Regions from separate parts of the Homo sapiens genome. Here region 2 is linked to region 1. The links come from fine-mapping of genetic effects on plasma protein levels. A gene starts in region 1. The other region holds a variant in brackets. All regions are shown on one strand. Distances are between the middles of the regions. Region 1 holds the start of GPRC5C (G protein-coupled receptor class C group 5 member C). Region 2 overlaps GPRC5C (G protein-coupled receptor class C group 5 member C).

Region 1 (8,000 bases):
CAGAGCATGGCATGGCAAAGCTATTCCAATCATGGTGAAACAGAACTGAAAGAATGCCAGCTTCTGCAAGAGTTTGGGTTAAAAACCATTAGGCCAAGCACGGTGGCTCATGCCTGTAATCCCAGCACTTTGGGAGGACAAGGAGGGAGGATTGCTTGAGCCTAGGAGTTCCAGACCAGCCTGGGCAACATAGTGAGACCCCATCTCTACAAAAAAATGCAAAAATTAGCCATGCATGATGATGCACTCCTATAGTCCCAGCTACTCGAGAGGCTGAGGCAGGAGGGTTGCTTGAGCCTGGGAAGTTGAGGCTGCACTGAGCCGAGATCGCAGCACCGCACTCCAGCTGGGGTGACAGAGTGAGATCCTGTTTCAAAAATAATTGATTAATTTAAATTTAAATTATAAATAAAAACTGTCAGACCTGTCAAGGCTTAGAGGGAATGACAATCATGCCAGGAAAGGGGAGGCTGATCGCTGGCTCCCTGTAAGCACCAGGCTTGTGTGAGGAACATTCCAGACACAGCTTCATTCTGGGGGTGATGTTATCATCCAGTTTTACAGTTGAGGAAAGCAGGGCTCAGAGAGATGAAGCAACTCATCCAAGTCACACAGCCGGCAGGTGGCACAGGTGTTCCCACCTTTGGGCCTTGTCAAGACCTCAGACATCTCTGAAGGAGGCTTTCCAACGAACAAAGGGTTTCTCACTCTGCCAGTAGGAATCCAACTCAGGTGGGGGTGGAGGTAGTTGGGTGGTGGACACAGACATGCTTCTCCGCAATCCAGAATCTTTTTTTTTCCTTTTTATTTCATATATTAAAAAAAATAAAATAAATAGGCTGAGCGCAGTGGTTCATACCTGGAATCCCAGCACTTTGGGAGGCCGAGGCGGAAAGATCGCTGGAGCTCAAGAGTTCAAGACCAGCCAGAGCAACACAGTGAGACCCCATATCTATTTTCTTTTTCGTTTGTTTCAATAGAGATGAAGTCTATGTTGCCCAGGCTGGTCTCCAACTCCTGGGCTCATGCGATCCTCCCACCTAGGACTCCCAAAATGCTGGGATTATAGGCGTGAGTCACTGTGCTGGGCCTCAAGATCTCTTTGAACAGTAGCACTCTTTGAACACTTCTCAGAGTGTAGTTTTTTGGTGAAAACAGAGTTTGCAATGGGTTCTACGCCTACTGGGGTATTAAATCAAAGTGAAGGACATTTGGGGGCACAGAGGACCCTGTGGCTGGAGTCTCGGAAAGCAGCGCCACCTCCCACAGAACTTCCCTTCCAGCATCACAGGCTCGCTGGGTCCAGCAGCCCCCACCAGGGTCTGACTCATGGTGGAGGGGTCTCATGCCTTCTCCAACTCTTGCCTCCCCACTCTGGACCAGCACAGGCCCCCGGGACTAGAGCAGAGACCAACAGGGACCCTGAAGGCTGAAGCCCATGTCATCGGCCCCAAAGGACTTGCTTTGTCCTTTAAAGGCAAATCCTGCCCAGGAAGTGAGACGGAGTGAACACAAAAAGAGCAAACAGCTCTCAGGAAACCTCCCTACATATCCGCCGCCATCTACCATGCAGGGCTGGCAGTGGGCAGGGCTCCGCTGCTCCGTCCAGGCCTCAGATGCCCCAGCCTTTCCCCCGCCTGGGTCGGGAGGGAGTGGTAAAGAGTTGCCTTTTTGGAGAATCTAGGTAGGGAAAAGAGATTCCCAAAGCTTGAAAATAAATTGAAACAGATCTGCCAGATCCACAATTCATCTTTGGCTTCTTAAGGTCACAAGCAGTCTCGGGGACTATTTCCATTCCACCTTCCTCTAGCTCTTAGCTGGCTTTTCACATATGCTAATGAGCGGCCCCTCCCAGCACACTGTGTTCAGCACCAGTTGCCTGCTTCACGAGAACTAGTCCCAGCCCACAGTCACGGATGCCCCTCGCCTAGGTCTGACCCGCCGTTTGCCTTTCTAGCGTTGGCACTCAACTGCTTGGACCCTACAAGCGTTTGCCTCCCTGGCATGGGGGCCTCTGAATCTTAGGGTGGGAGGTGGAGCTACGGAAGGGAGCCCAGGAGTGAGCAACAGATCAGCAGCAGCACTGCGCCCCTCTTCTTAATATTGAAGAGACTTGAAACAATTCAGTCTTCGCCACCCCAGACCAGCCCGTGAGGGCAAGGCCAGGAAGGGATACAGGGTTCTAGAGAACCAGGGCCTCACCGCCAGCTCCGGCCGCTAAGCAAACATTCCCTCCAGGAGTCCGAGAAGCCGGTGTGCGAGGGGAGGAACCAGCCTGAGGTTTATCGCTCCAGCAACTCCGGGTGATTCATAGAGTTTAGACTCCCGGTTGTCGTAGACCGCGGCAGGCACGCAAACAAGCAGCCCGGGAGATACCCTCCCCTTTCCCAGCCCCCGCTCCTCCACCTTGCTACCCCCTAGCCCGTGACCAGCTGCCTCCCCTCCCCCTCGCGGGCGCTCAGGGTTGAGCAAACACTCCGGGCCGCCCGCCCCGCCACCAGCTGGCTCCGACCGGCGCACCGCTGGCGATCCCCCAGGCAATTCGGCGTCATGAGAACCGGCACCCCGAGACTCGGCGCCCTGCCCTCCCTCCGCGTCTCCAGGGCCCTGGCCAGGCCCAACAACCTCTCCCTCCTCTGTGCGCCTCAGCCCCTACGGGCCTCTGGCGCGGGCTAACTAGGCCTCGCTGCGGGCCCCCAGGACTGCGCACCCCACCCCCCGCGAGGCCAGCAGCCCCGGGGGAAGGCGGCCGGAAAATCTCTTGTTTATCGGGCTGGATAAGTACCAGCCTGGATTCGCTTCCCAATTTCTGCGGTCCAGCTTCAGCAGATTCCTGGGGCCGGAGGGGAAAGGGTGGCAACCCACAGATCCACCCCGGAACAGGGAGTGGGGGGTGGGGCTGGTGGGAACCTGACCTCCTGGAAAGGACGGACTCGGAGTCAGAGCCAACGTGTCCCGGAGCGCAGAGGCCCAGGGGGTCGCGCTAAACACTGTACCTCGGGGAACAAAACCGTGAAGGCTAATTAGGACAAGTCGGAGCAGGGAACGGGGACGCCGGGAGGGGAGAGCGCGCTCCGAGTTGGGCAGAACCTGGAACGGTCACAGGAAACCCGGGCGCGGGGTAGTCGGGCCGAGGGGGACCTTTGCCCACGGTCCAGAGTGGTCTGGACTCGGCCCACGCGTGAGAGGAGCGCTTGGTGACGATCCCACGTACGCTTGGTGACTGGTGGAGGTCCCAGAGAAGGACCGTGCGTGCAAAAGGCGAACCTCGGTGTGCGGTGTGTCCACGTGTGCAAGCTGGGGAGGGGAGGGGGCGCAGAAGGCGTGACAAAGACGGACTCTGTCTTGAGTGTGCGCCTCGCTCCGGCCCGCTCCCAGCGAACTGTGCCTGAAGTGTGTCTCACGGGAGGGCCAGGACGAAGGTGACAAAGGCTAGGTGTCCCCCACGGAGACGCGCCAAGGTAGCCCCGCGCGTGTCCGTAGGCGCGCTCTCTGGAAGACGCGGTGGGGGGTGCGCAGGGCTGCACCCTCACACCAATTGCCCCGGCGAAGGCCGAGCCCAGAAAGTGAGTGCGCGTGAGTGTGCGCGCGCCCGCATGCGGGGGCGTGGCAGTCAACAGCAACAACCCACACGCCGGCAGGGCCAGAAACTCCCATCTCCCTCACCAGCCGGAAAGTACGAGTCGGCTCAGCCTGGAGGTGAGTCGGGGCGGGGAGGGCCGGGCAGGCTTTGTTCCTGTGTAAACGGAGCGCACGTACCTGGAGCGCGGCGGGCGCCCGATTAGCGCCCTGAATGGAGGTGATGTAACGGTGATGCAGGCTCCAGCCCACCCTCGCCGAAAGCAAGGAGCCCTGCCTGGGGACAGGCCCGCGCGAGAGCGAGCAACCCAGCGCGCCTGGCTCAGCCTCGGTCCCAGGGAGAGGCAGGCCCTGCGTCCCGGCCCGGGCCCCGCCATCCCAGCCAGGACCGGGCCTGGCCCAGCGCCCCGCGCCGCGTCCCTCCCACCCCCGCCCGCCCCCCGCCTGGGGCTGGAGTTGGCCCCAAACGCTGCGCTGGAGCGGGGCCGGCGGCGAGTCCCAGGTAAGGGCTGCTGCCTTCCCGCTCCGCCGCCCGGAAGAGTCGGGTCGGGACGGCGGGGAGTGGGCGAGGGCAGAGGCGGGGGGACTGGACATCCTGCGGGCTGGGGACGCCGCGCCAACTCCGCTCGGTCGCTGAAAGTTTTCAAACCCGAGCCGGCTGGGGACTGGGGGGGTGGGGGAGCCCGGCGCTGCGGCTCGGGCTGGAGGGAGGGGAAACCACTCCATAATCGGGGTCTCCAAGAGGAGCCCCTCCACCGCCTGCCTCTCGGTGGGAGTCCGCGGTCACTCTCTCTCGTGGGTGGCGTCCTCTCTGCCGCCTGCTACTGTGGATGTGGAGGGCAGGTTTCTGTGGCCCTAAAAATGGGAGAGAGTGACTGGTTCCCTTGCTCCCCATTCCAGCCACCCAGGGAGCGCAGGTGTAGACCCCAGTACCGTCGACCCAAGTAGGGACGAGAGGGTTCAGAATCCCCCTGAGGGAAGTTTGGAAATTCAGACTATCAAAGCGCCTCCCCTTCTGGTAGCCTGGCCCCTAGATCCCGAACCCCCACTCCCGGCTGGCTTTTCCAGCGTCCTTTGCACCTCCATCCCCAGGCCCGCAGTGTTACACGCTGGAAGACCCAATCACTTACAAACTCCACGATCAAGATCCTAAAGCCCGGGAGAGGAGACTGTTGGAAGTAGGGTTTTGTGCTCCTGGAGCTTCCTCTCCCCGCCGGCCCCCCACCCCTGTGCCTTCAACTGGACTGGGGGAGGGAGTGCATTGGGGGGTGGGGCGCATTCCAGAGTGACATTCCAGAGCAGACCCTTGAAGATTTCCAAGTCTCAGAGAGCTCAGGGCATTTTGGCCCAAATGCCTGGTCTTGGTGCGGGGCAGGGGCAGGGGGATAGGGGTGGGGTGTCTAGGCTGAGGTTCGAGGAACCCCAACCCACCCCCCACCAACCTACACACTGAGGCCGCTCCTTCCAGGCACAGGCGTCTCCTGTGCGCCTTCTTATCGATGGGGTAAACGCCTGAGCGCCCTGCACAGAGGGGTGAGACAGTGGGACCTAACCAGGGACTGGGAGAGACCGATAGGAGTGGAGGCAGGAAGGCTGTCAGTCGGGCCATCGTCTTTCCCTATAGGCTCTTGAGTGTGTGGGATGGGAGGAAGGCAAGTGCTCTGTGGTATCCCTGGGGGAACCTCCCTGAAGAGTGCCCTGGTCACAGCACCCTTGAAGACAGCCATTGGCCATGGGTCAGTGTTGAGTTTGGTTGGCCCTGTGACGCGCTGGAGCTCTCTTTCCAGTGCGGTATCCTTGGCCCTGGTGGGTGGAGGGGGTCTCAGGCTTGTGTGTGGATGATGCTGGAGCGAGGAAGGGAGTTTTGCTCTGGAGAAGTGAGAAGGCCTGGCTGTCTCCCCGGTTGCTGGATGAAGCCACTTGTTGCTGGGGGAAACCAGTCAGGGCTGCTTGGGCCTCTGGGCCTCTGAGCCTCTGAGCCCACCAGGCCTCTGCGCCCCCTGGAGAGAGAAGGAGGGAGGAGGGAGGTTCAGCAACTGGACTGCACTGACTCACAGGAGAGCTGGGGGCAGGGTGGCTGAGCCTGGGGAAAGGCCGATTTCGGAGGCGATTAAAAATATTTGTACAACTGATTCCAGGGAAGTGAAGCAAAAGGCCCTTTTGTCCAGAAAATAATCTGAGGCTGGAGCTGGGCTTCAGCTGTGGGGTGGGGGAGACTCAGGGCGGAAGGAGGTTCCCCTCCTACCCCCCTCCTTGAACCCTCTGAGAATCTTTAAGCAGAAGATGCAACTCCAACATGGAGGGGACAACCCTGGGTGTGGAGAAATGCACCTGGGACCATCCAGAGGTGACTTCCAAATGCCCACTGTGTTCAGGCACAGCACCAGCTGTGGCAGTGGATTCTAGAAGTCTTGTTCACCAGCTTCAAAGACCTTACAGCCCTGGAGGGGAGACACGGACATGATTTGAACGTTCAGGGATCAGAAGGCTCAGTCTTAGTGCAGGGTCTGGGGACCCACAGGAGGCAGAAGTTTCCTCCAGGGTCCTGAGGAAAAGCCTCTGACCAGAGCTGAGTCCATCTTGTCAGTCCCTTAGCCACCATCTTAAAAGGTGGCATTGGGCCGGGAACGGTGGCTCACACTTGTAATCCCAGCACTTTGAGAGGCTGAGGTAGGTGGATCACCTTAGGTCAGGAGTTTGAGACCAGCCTGGCCAACATAGTGAAACCCTGTCTCTACTAAAAATACAAAAATTAGTTGGGCATGGTGGTGGGCACCTGTAATCCCAGCTACTCGGGAGGCTGAGGCAGGAGAATTGCTTGAACCTGGGAGTTGGAGGTTGCAGTGAGCCGAGATCATGCCATTGCACTCCAGTCTGGGCAACAAGAGTGAAGCTTCGTCTCAAGAAAAAAAAAAAGGCTGGGCGCAGTGGCTCACGCCTGTAATCCCAGCACTTTGGGAGGCCGAAGCGGGCGGATCACGAGGTCAGGAGATTGAGACCATCCTAGCTAACACGGTGAAACCCCGTCTCTACTAAAAATAGAAAAAATTAGCCGGGCGTGGTGGCGGGCGCCTGTAGTCCCAGCTACTCGGGAGGCTGAGGCAGGAGAATGGCATGAACCTGGGAGGCGGAGCTTGCAGTGAGCCGAGATCACGCCACTGCGCTCCAGCCTGGGCGACAGAGCGAGACTCCGTCTCAAAAAAAGAAAAAAAAAAGGCATTGGCTGAATGTGCACTCCCGGCATCAGAGGGCTGGAGCTGTGCTCTTCTGAGCTTCTCTTTAACTCTCTGAGGGTCCCTGTCCTAGGCAGTGGATGAGAGCCACGCCCAGAAAGCCCAGGTTTCCCACCTGAGTCCATGTATTTCTGTCTTCCCACCTGCCCTTCCATTTCTGGGGGAACCAGAGAAATAAGATATTTCAGGATGGGACCAGGTTGTTTCCTCTGAGGCTGTTAAGTTACTCAGCAACTTACTAAAAGCAGCAGCCTGGCTGCTGGGCAGCAGCATGGTACCTGGATGCGGTGAGGGGCAGGTACAGGCTCCTCTCTCATTCCTTGAAAGTTTCTATATTGAGGGGGTTGGCAGGAGAAGCAAGACTTGAAGGGTCAGGTGCAGAAGGAAGTTGCTGGTCACCAACCACAAAATCAGGGGGAAACTGGAGGTGGGGGCTTAGGGACAGAGAGCTGTGAAGCTTTCCTGACCCTAGCCCAAGTGCCTGTGGGCTTCTTGGAGCCAGCAGGGTACAGGCAAGTATTTCTAGGGCAAGATGGATCAAGAAGAATGAGTGACATTGGTCCCTGGCTTGGTTTTCTGTAATGACATGCCTGTTAGATTTGAACTTGTAGTATGGGCTTTAGTATCCTTTTCCCCCACCTCCGCCATCCAACCAGTCCTTCGATTGTTTTTTGGAAAGGATCTTTCAGAGCTGGCCATTATGGCTTTACCTTTGGCCTTGACCTTTAAACTGGAATGAATGTGCCCCCCAACAAATCGATTGCCTGTGCATTTTTGCCAGACTCTTTTCCTAAAAGCGCAACCCTGGCTATGCCCCCATGATGCTAAAAGCAGCCTTCAGTGGCTGCCTGTTGCCTTTAGGATAATGCCCCCAGCCCCACCCCTGTAGCATTTCCAATGTGTCAGCCAGCAGCTGCAGCCTCCCTTTGCAGACTCAGCTGATACTTGGCAAACTGAATTCTTTTTTAACTTGCTCTGGACTTGGGCTCAAAGGGCTTTGATTCACACCATCTTTTCTGCCTTGCACGTCCCTCTCCTTGTTCCCTTCACCTGCTCAGTCCTTCCTCACATTCTTCAGGGCTTAGCTTTTGGGTGTCCCTGTCTCTTGGCAGTGTCTGGGACCTGGTATGTTTTTTTATTAGATTCTGAGTAAAACTCTGCGGAACAGTCTTTCTCTACTCTGCCTGT
Region 2 (8,000 bases), 10 kb after region 1:
GGTCTCGAACTCCTGACCTCAAGTGATCCACCAGTCTTGGCCTCCCAAAGTGCTGGGATTACAGGCGTGAGCCACTGCACCCAGCTGCTAATTTTTGTGTTTTTTATAGAGACGGGGTTTCACCATGTTGCCCAGGCTGGTCTCAAACTCCTGGACTCTAGCAATCTGTTCACCTTGACCTCCCAAAGTGCTGGGATTATAGGCATGAACCACCGTGCCCAGCAGCATTTAAATTTTCAGTGTTAGGTTTCCTCCAAGTACATTTAAAACTTTTGATTGGAAAAAAACTCATTGATTTGGTCTTTAATATTTCTTAACCTGTTAAATCCATTACCTCCACTTCACGTGGGAAAATCCAATTGGTATTGGGAGCAGGAGTTTGGTTTTCTTCTCTGGCACAGATCTGTGGCATTTGGTAGAGCGGCAGTCAGTAGATGGAGTGAAAATTACCTTGCTGGTGTTAATAAAAGCTAATTTTCTTGCCTTCTAGCTACAACGTCTTAAAGTCTTCTATTAAAGATTAATTCCTTTGGGTTTTGCATTGCCCTTGCCTGGTTCTTACTTTTAAAATGTTAATGCTCCGAAGGAAAATTTTTGCATTAAGTCATTAACTCCTTAGCTGGGGACTTCGTTTATTTCACCCTTGACTTCCGCTTCCGAGCTAGGCAAAAAATGGAGGATTCTGAACTGGAGACTTGGCACTAAAAGTGGGAAAATGACTGTCTCTTCATTTTTCCTGGCTGTTGGTTATGCCTGCTGCAGCTGCTTGTTAAGTCTATTGAATGAATGAATGAACACATAGCTGACTGGCTGTGGATTTAGGCCTCACAGGAATGGAGTTTAGGGGCATAGCAGCTGACCTCCTGAAGCCTGAAAGTCCCAGGGCAGAGAGGAGGTACTGGGTGGGTGGTATGCTTGGTCTTGACTTGTTCACAAGCCCCTTCATCCTCCACCGTGGCCGCCAGAGCTCAGGGAATATCTGAACCCAGGTTATGTTTGGTGGAAGGGAGGGAACTGAAAATTCAATGACAGGTTTTTCTTTTGCCATGGCTAGGAATAGGGCTGACAAATGGGCTTCATCTCATTTGCCTCTGTGGCCAGTTGAAATGCCTCTCAGGGGTTCTATGTTAAGAAGGATTCTGAGGTCCAGAGAGCCTCACGGTCAGCAGCTAGCACTATCTGCCTGGGTTTAGGTTGGGGGAAGCAGCACCATGTATATTGGAGTCTGATCTTGGAGGACTAATTTTGTCCCTTTTCCTTCTGTCTCTAGGGACCCAACCAGAGCCTGGCCTGGGAGCCAGGATGGCCATCCACAAAGCCTTGGTGATGTGCCTGGGACTGCCTCTCTTCCTGTTCCCAGGGGCCTGGGCCCAGGGCCATGTCCCACCCGGCTGCAGCCAAGGCCTCAACCCCCTGTACTACAACCTGTGTGACCGCTCTGGGGCGTGGGGCATCGTCCTGGAGGCCGTGGCTGGGGCGGGCATTGTCACCACGTTTGTGCTCACCATCATCCTGGTGGCCAGCCTCCCCTTTGTGCAGGACACCAAGAAACGGAGCCTGCTGGGGACCCAGGTATTCTTCCTTCTGGGGACCCTGGGCCTCTTCTGCCTCGTGTTTGCCTGTGTGGTGAAGCCCGACTTCTCCACCTGTGCCTCTCGGCGCTTCCTCTTTGGGGTTCTGTTCGCCATCTGCTTCTCTTGTCTGGCGGCTCACGTCTTTGCCCTCAACTTCCTGGCCCGGAAGAACCACGGGCCCCGGGGCTGGGTGATCTTCACTGTGGCTCTGCTGCTGACCCTGGTAGAGGTCATCATCAATACAGAGTGGCTGATCATCACCCTGGTTCGGGGCAGTGGCGAGGGCGGCCCTCAGGGCAACAGCAGCGCAGGCTGGGCCGTGGCCTCCCCCTGTGCCATCGCCAACATGGACTTTGTCATGGCACTCATCTACGTCATGCTGCTGCTGCTGGGTGCCTTCCTGGGGGCCTGGCCCGCCCTGTGTGGCCGCTACAAGCGCTGGCGTAAGCATGGGGTCTTTGTGCTCCTCACCACAGCCACCTCCGTTGCCATATGGGTGGTGTGGATCGTCATGTATACTTACGGCAACAAGCAGCACAACAGTCCCACCTGGGATGACCCCACGCTGGCCATCGCCCTCGCCGCCAATGCCTGGGCCTTCGTCCTCTTCTACGTCATCCCCGAGGTCTCCCAGGTGACCAAGTCCAGCCCAGAGCAAAGCTACCAGGGGGACATGTACCCCACCCGGGGCGTGGGCTATGAGACCATCCTGAAAGAGCAGAAGGGTCAGAGCATGTTCGTGGAGAACAAGGCCTTTTCCATGGATGAGCCGGTTGCAGGTGGGTCTCTGTGGATGCCCCCAGTGGCCCCTTTCTCCATCCCATGTCTTTTACTGCAGGACAGGGAGCCAGTCTCTTGAGCAAAATGGAAAGTTTTTGAGGTTTTCTGTAGTTTTCTGCCTAAGTGTCTCTAAATTCCATTTAATTTAAAGATTTTTTTTTTTCAGTTGGGCATGGTAGATCATGCCTGTAATCCTAGCACTTTGGGAGGCCAAGGCGGGTGGATCACTTGAGACGAGGAGTTCGAGACCAGCCTGATCCACATGGTGAAACCCCGTCTCTACTAGAAATCCAAAAAAATTAGCTGGGTGTGCTGGCTCATGCCTGTGATCTCAGCTACTCGGGAGGCTGAGGCGGGAGAATCACTTGAACCTGGGAGGCGGAGGTTGCAGTGAGCCAAAATCGAGCCACTACACTCCAGCCTGGGTGACAGAGCAAGACTCCATCTCAAAATAAATAAATAAATAAGATTTTTTTTCTATATTCATATAATTCATGCATACATTCTCACTGTAAAATTTCAAACATTACAGATAAAATGAAATTTTCCCCAGCTGCCTCCCCAGTCCTACCCGTCCCATCCTGTTCCATCCCCAGAAGTGACCACTATTGACTGATATAATATCTATGTGCCTTTGTTTCTCCATTTGTAAAATGGGGATAATGTCAGTACCTATTTCATAGGGTTCTTGTGAGGATTGAATTAATTAGTGCCGGCTGGGCGCCATGGCTCACACCTGTAATCCCAGCACTTTGGGAGGCTGAGGTGAGTGGAGCTTGAGCCTAGGAGTTTGAGACCGGCCTGGACAACATAGTGAGGCCCCGTCTCTACAAATAATTTCAAAAATTAGCCAGGTGTGGTAGTGCATGCCTATGGTCCCAGCTCCTCAGGAGGCTGAGGCAGGAGGATTGCCTGAGCCCAGGAGGTTGAGGCTTCAGTGAGCCGTGATTGCACCACCACATTCCAGCCTGGATGATCTCAAAAAAAAAAAAAATTACTTAGTGCCCGGCCCATGAAAAGCACTCTTGAAGAATTAGCTATTTGCTGTGTGTGCGTGTCTATTATTTTACATATTTTACTAATACTATCCTTCCAGAACTTGTTTTTCTATTATGTATGTATCCATAATCACCTTAGTTTTCTTTAAAAGGAAGTATTTTTCAGGTAATTTTTTTCTCTTTTTTTATTTTTTGAGACGGAGTCTCGCTCTGTCACCCAGGCTGGAGTACAGTGGTGTGATCTTGGCTCACTGCAACCTCCGCCTCCCGGGCTCAAGAGATTCTCCTGCCTCAGCCTCCCAAGTAGCTGGGATTACAGGCACGTGCCACCACACCTGGCTAATTTTTGTATTTTTAATAGAGACGGGATTTCACTATGTTGGCCAGGCTGGTCTCGAACTGCTAACCTCAAGTGATCCGCCTGCCTCGGCATCCCAAAGTGCTGGGATTACAGGTGTGAGCCACTGCACCTGGCCTTTTTCTCTTTTTAATAAAAGTATTTGGGGTGCCGTGTAGTGGTCTCAGCAGCGCCCTTGTTAGCTGTACAGCCCACTAGCATTTCCTCAGCACCTGCTCTGTGCCAGCCCCTGTGCTAATCCCCTTACCGATGTGGCCCATTGCACGCATCCCACCTGCTCTTCCTCAGCCTGCTGGCTGCAGCCCCTCATCTGACATGACCTGGAAATTTGGGGGTGCCATCTCAAAGTCCTGACCCTGCCCCCAGACTGTGCTGATCTGGAGGCCTGGGGGCTTCAGACTTTCTTAACTGCCCGGTTAACAAGCACCGGCTCTGGGGTCTCTGCTGGGAGGTCAGAGTCAGGCAGTGGAAGTTCCAGAATCAGAGACATTCCTTTCTCTTCTACACACTGTGAAATCCTCATAATCCCTGCTTTGGAGAAAGAGATGACCCTTGTCCTGCCGGGCACTTGATCTTTGATCTGCCCACCTGGGCTGAGGTGCTGGCCTCACCCCTGGGTGGCCCCTGTCACACGCACGGTGTGCATGG[C/G]GGGGGTGGAATTGGCAAAACCCACCAGAGAGGTGGGGCTTACAGACAAGTGCTGGGAGGAGCCTCAGGCCCCGCCCCCACACTGAATGCCGGTCGGGGCCAAATGGTTCTCAACCTTGGGGCTGAGTTTTTACTTCCTTTTTTTTTTTCTAAATGGAAAAATCAATAGAGTGAGCCCAGCCCCAGCACTTAGGAAACTCTATATAGGTTGCGGTCCCTCAGAACTGCAGGGCCGTCAGCCTTGCCGGAGCCAGACGTCCGCTGTGCCGTCCTCACAGCAAGGCCTGCTCCGAGGCCCCGGGGTGCGTCAGCAGCCCTCCTCAAACACCCTGGGAGTGCCCAGCAGGGCGGAACACACCGGGAAACCAACACCCCAAAGGCACAAGGAAGTATCCCTGGAGCTAAAAATAGTTCTGGAAACTTGCCAGGGGGCCACAGGCTGGGACGTGCGTTAAGGCTCCCTGGCCAGGCTCTGGGTTGGTGTAGTGGGGAAGGGGCGCCCAGGTCGGCCCTGGGAGGACATGAACAGGCTTAGGCCGAGGGCTCTCAGATGTATTTACCTCTGTGCCTGGCAGCTGGCCCGTGGTGACAGGCAGAGCTGGAGGCTGGCCATCTTGGAAGGCGGCCGAAGGCCCATGTGTCCTCTTGGCCTCTGGCCCCGGAGGGCGGATGGGGATGTGGAAGTTGCTGACAGAGCATTTTCTGAGCTGTTGGGTCAGGGGCTGGGGTGTCTACAGTGCAGGGAAGCTCAGCAGTGTTGTTCACTCCCATGCATCTGTACAAAGGGGTGCTAGGCTTGGGAGGGGGCCCCCGTGTTCACAACCTCACCCCCAAGTTGGCCACTCCTGGGTTAGAGACTATGCCAGGGTTGGCCTGCCCCCTTTACCTCTTCCCTGCCCCCAGAGAGCCTTGCTTGGTTTGTGGGAGGTGGGGAAGGGAGCTGAGAGCCCTGGGATCTTCAAACTGTTCCTGCTTTTCCTTGTAGCTAAGAGGCCGGTGTCACCATACAGCGGGTACAATGGGCAGCTGCTGACCAGTGTGTACCAGCCCACTGAGATGGCCCTGATGCACAAAGTTCCGGTAAGTGGGTTCCCCAGGTCCCCGTGACACGTCTGGGCTACAGAGACCAGCCTCAGCAGGCCAGTGGGAGAAGGCCATGTGGCCAGAGCTGGGTTGGGTGGAGGTGGTAAGGGGAAGGCAAGCTTCTCCATCTGGTGCTTTTACCTGGGGAATCCAGAGCCCCAGTTCTTAAATTCCTTGTCCTGGAGTCAGTGTACCCACCACCTTCAGCTGCACTGCAGTGGGACCCGCCCTGTGTCACTGGGGCATTGCACACAGGTTGTGTCGGGATGCTATAGGGAATGCTGGGTGAGCTCTCCCTGGTGGGAGCTGCCAGCTTTACCCTGGAGGGCTTGGGGAGGGACAAAGGAGGGTCTCAGCCAGGTGCTCCCAAAATAGACAGGGGTCCAAATGTCACAGGTCTGGATAGGTGTTTACTTCTCAACCACAGCTGTGCCAAGGGGGCCCACACTCTCCTCCCTCTCTGGCAGGCAGCAAGTCTCGACCTTACACCTCCCCCTGGGTTCTGGAAACTAGAAGCATCGTTAGCCAGGGGAGGGGGAGGGAGCAGGAAGACGGTGGGTTGGATTCTACTCACTCCTATATGTGTTCCTCCTCCCGGCTGGCAGAGGCTGTGGGGAGAGGTCAGTGACCCGTCTTGGCAGGACACTGGGAACAGGAAACAAGGAGGTCAGCTGGGTGGCGTTCTCATCCCCCTCCCCGCCCTCTCTGTGAGAGCCGCGGGGCAGGGGGAGGTGAGTGTGGCTGAAGCTTCCAATCCCAGCGCCTCCCCTCTCCCTGAGCCTGAACCTGAGCCTGGGCAGAGGAGAGCTTCCGGAGCACCAGGAGTGGAGGCTGCGGGCTGTCAGCTCTGGCGGGGAGTGGGCAGCCACAGAAGCCTTTGCTGAATAGCTTCCTTCACTGTTGCTGCACCTCACTCCCCAGCGCGTTTGGAGTCTGCTTCCTGGGGGATGATCTGGATTAACAGGGATATTTTATCTGACCGGTTCTCAAAACATGGTACCCGGACCACCAGCACTAGCCTCACCTGGGAGCCTGCTCAAAGTGCAAATGGGGGCCAGGCACAATGGCTCACACCTGTAATCCCAGTACTTTGAGAGGCTGAGGCAGGTGGATCACCTGAGGTCAGGAGTTTGAGACCAGCCTGGCCAACATGCTGAAACCTCATCTCTACTAAAAACACAAAAATCAGCCAGGCATAGTGGCACATGCCTGTAGTCCCAGCTACTAGGAAGGCCTTAGCCAGAGGATCCCTTGAACCCGGGAGGTGGAGGTTGCAGTGAGCACAGACTGTACCACTGCACTCCAGCCTGGACAACAGAGTGAGACTCTGTCTCCAAAAATAAATAAATAAGAAAAAAAAAAAAAAGTGCAGATGGGGCGGGGCCAGAGCTGGGATGGAGCTGACTGTTAGCATCCGTTCAGGGCGTCGGCACCATGGGGGCACTATCCAGCGCAGATCTGCAAGCCCAGCATTCAGCACTCCCTCCCCCAGCCCCAGCTGTTGCCAGCTGCATGGGGCCAGCTGTGTTGGGTGGGGACTGTGTAGGGTCCAGCTATGAGTTGGTGGAGTCTGCGTGGGGACTGTGTAGGGTCCAGCTATGAGTTGGTGAGGCTTAACAAGCAGTGCAGGTGATTCCAATGCACACTCATCTGTGGTTTTGGACCACAGATGTAGATGTTCCAGGGACCACATGGACAGGGGCCATTGCAGACAGGCCTGAGGACCTCCTGGGCCTGATTGACTTGAAGGCTAGTTTGGGGTCTGGGAGCTACAGAGATTTGGTGGCAGCTCTTTCCCATAGGGCTAAGACAGATGGGGCCAGGAATACACCTTTCCTCCAGCATAGGAGCCGGAACAGGTACCTCAGGACCCTCTTCACCCCACAGCTGGTGTCTCTCACCCACATGGGAGCAAGACCCAGCGCCAGGCAGAGAATTCAGGTTTCAAGACTCCAAATCAGGGCTGGTTGCAGTGGCTCATGCCTTTAATCCCAGTGCTCTGGGAGACTGACATGGGAGAACTGCTTGAGGCCGAGGGTTCGAGAGCAGCCCTGGCAACGTAGTGAGACCCCCCCCCCCCGCCCACCATCTCTACAAAAAAAAAAAAAAGACTCCAAATCAGACCGGCCAGACTAGATGCCTAGAGAGATGTGTGGGCACACCCAGAGCCATGTCCTCCGCCAGGGAAGCCAGCAACTGTGATGCTGGGGGTATGGTAGTGACAGGCGGTCGACTCGGGGTAATATTCTTGGAGGAGCCGGGCATGGTGGCTCACACCTATAATCCCGGCACTTTGGGAAGCCGAGGCGGGTGGATCACGAGGTCAGGAGATTGAGACCATCCTGGCTAACATGATGAAACACCGTCTCTAATAAAAATACAAAAAATTAGCCGGGCACGGTGGCGGGCTCCTGTAGTCCCAGCTACTCGGGAGGCTGAGGCAGGAGAATGGCGTGAACCCGGGAGGCAGAGTTTGCAGTTGGCCGAGATCACGCCACTGCACTCCAGCCTGGGCGACAGAGCGAGACTCCGTCTCAAAAAAAAAAAAAAAGATTCTTG

The links. A credible set is the group of variants that fine-mapping cannot tell apart. PIP is the posterior inclusion probability: the model's chance that the variant is causal. Protein levels are from antibody-based Olink assays in UK Biobank. Linkage for the fine-mapping came from a reference panel and not from the study's own genotypes, which makes the PIPs less certain.
Region 2: its variant is the best candidate, but not a certain one, in a credible set for the plasma level of the GPRC5C protein (UK Biobank, PIP 0.54).

What each region holds. Positions count from the first base shown.
Region 1 is chr17:74,428,443-74,436,442 of GRCh38, forward strand. It overlaps GPRC5C (G protein-coupled receptor class C group 5 member C), which reads left to right and starts at 3,646. Exons shown (of 4, transcript NM_022036.4): 1 at 3,646-3,699. RefSeq lists a silencer at 2,519-2,658.
Region 2 is chr17:74,438,475-74,446,474 of GRCh38, forward strand. GPRC5C (G protein-coupled receptor class C group 5 member C) reads left to right here. Exons shown (of 4, transcript NM_022036.4): 2 at 1,271-2,353; 3 at 5,344-5,438. The coding sequence starts at 1,303. Among named protein-coding and RNA genes, the nearest start is that of GPRC5C, 10 kb to the left of the region's middle. RefSeq lists enhancers at 4,585-4,704, 5,747-6,291, 6,292-6,835. The variant C/G (reference allele first, on the strand shown) is at 4,359.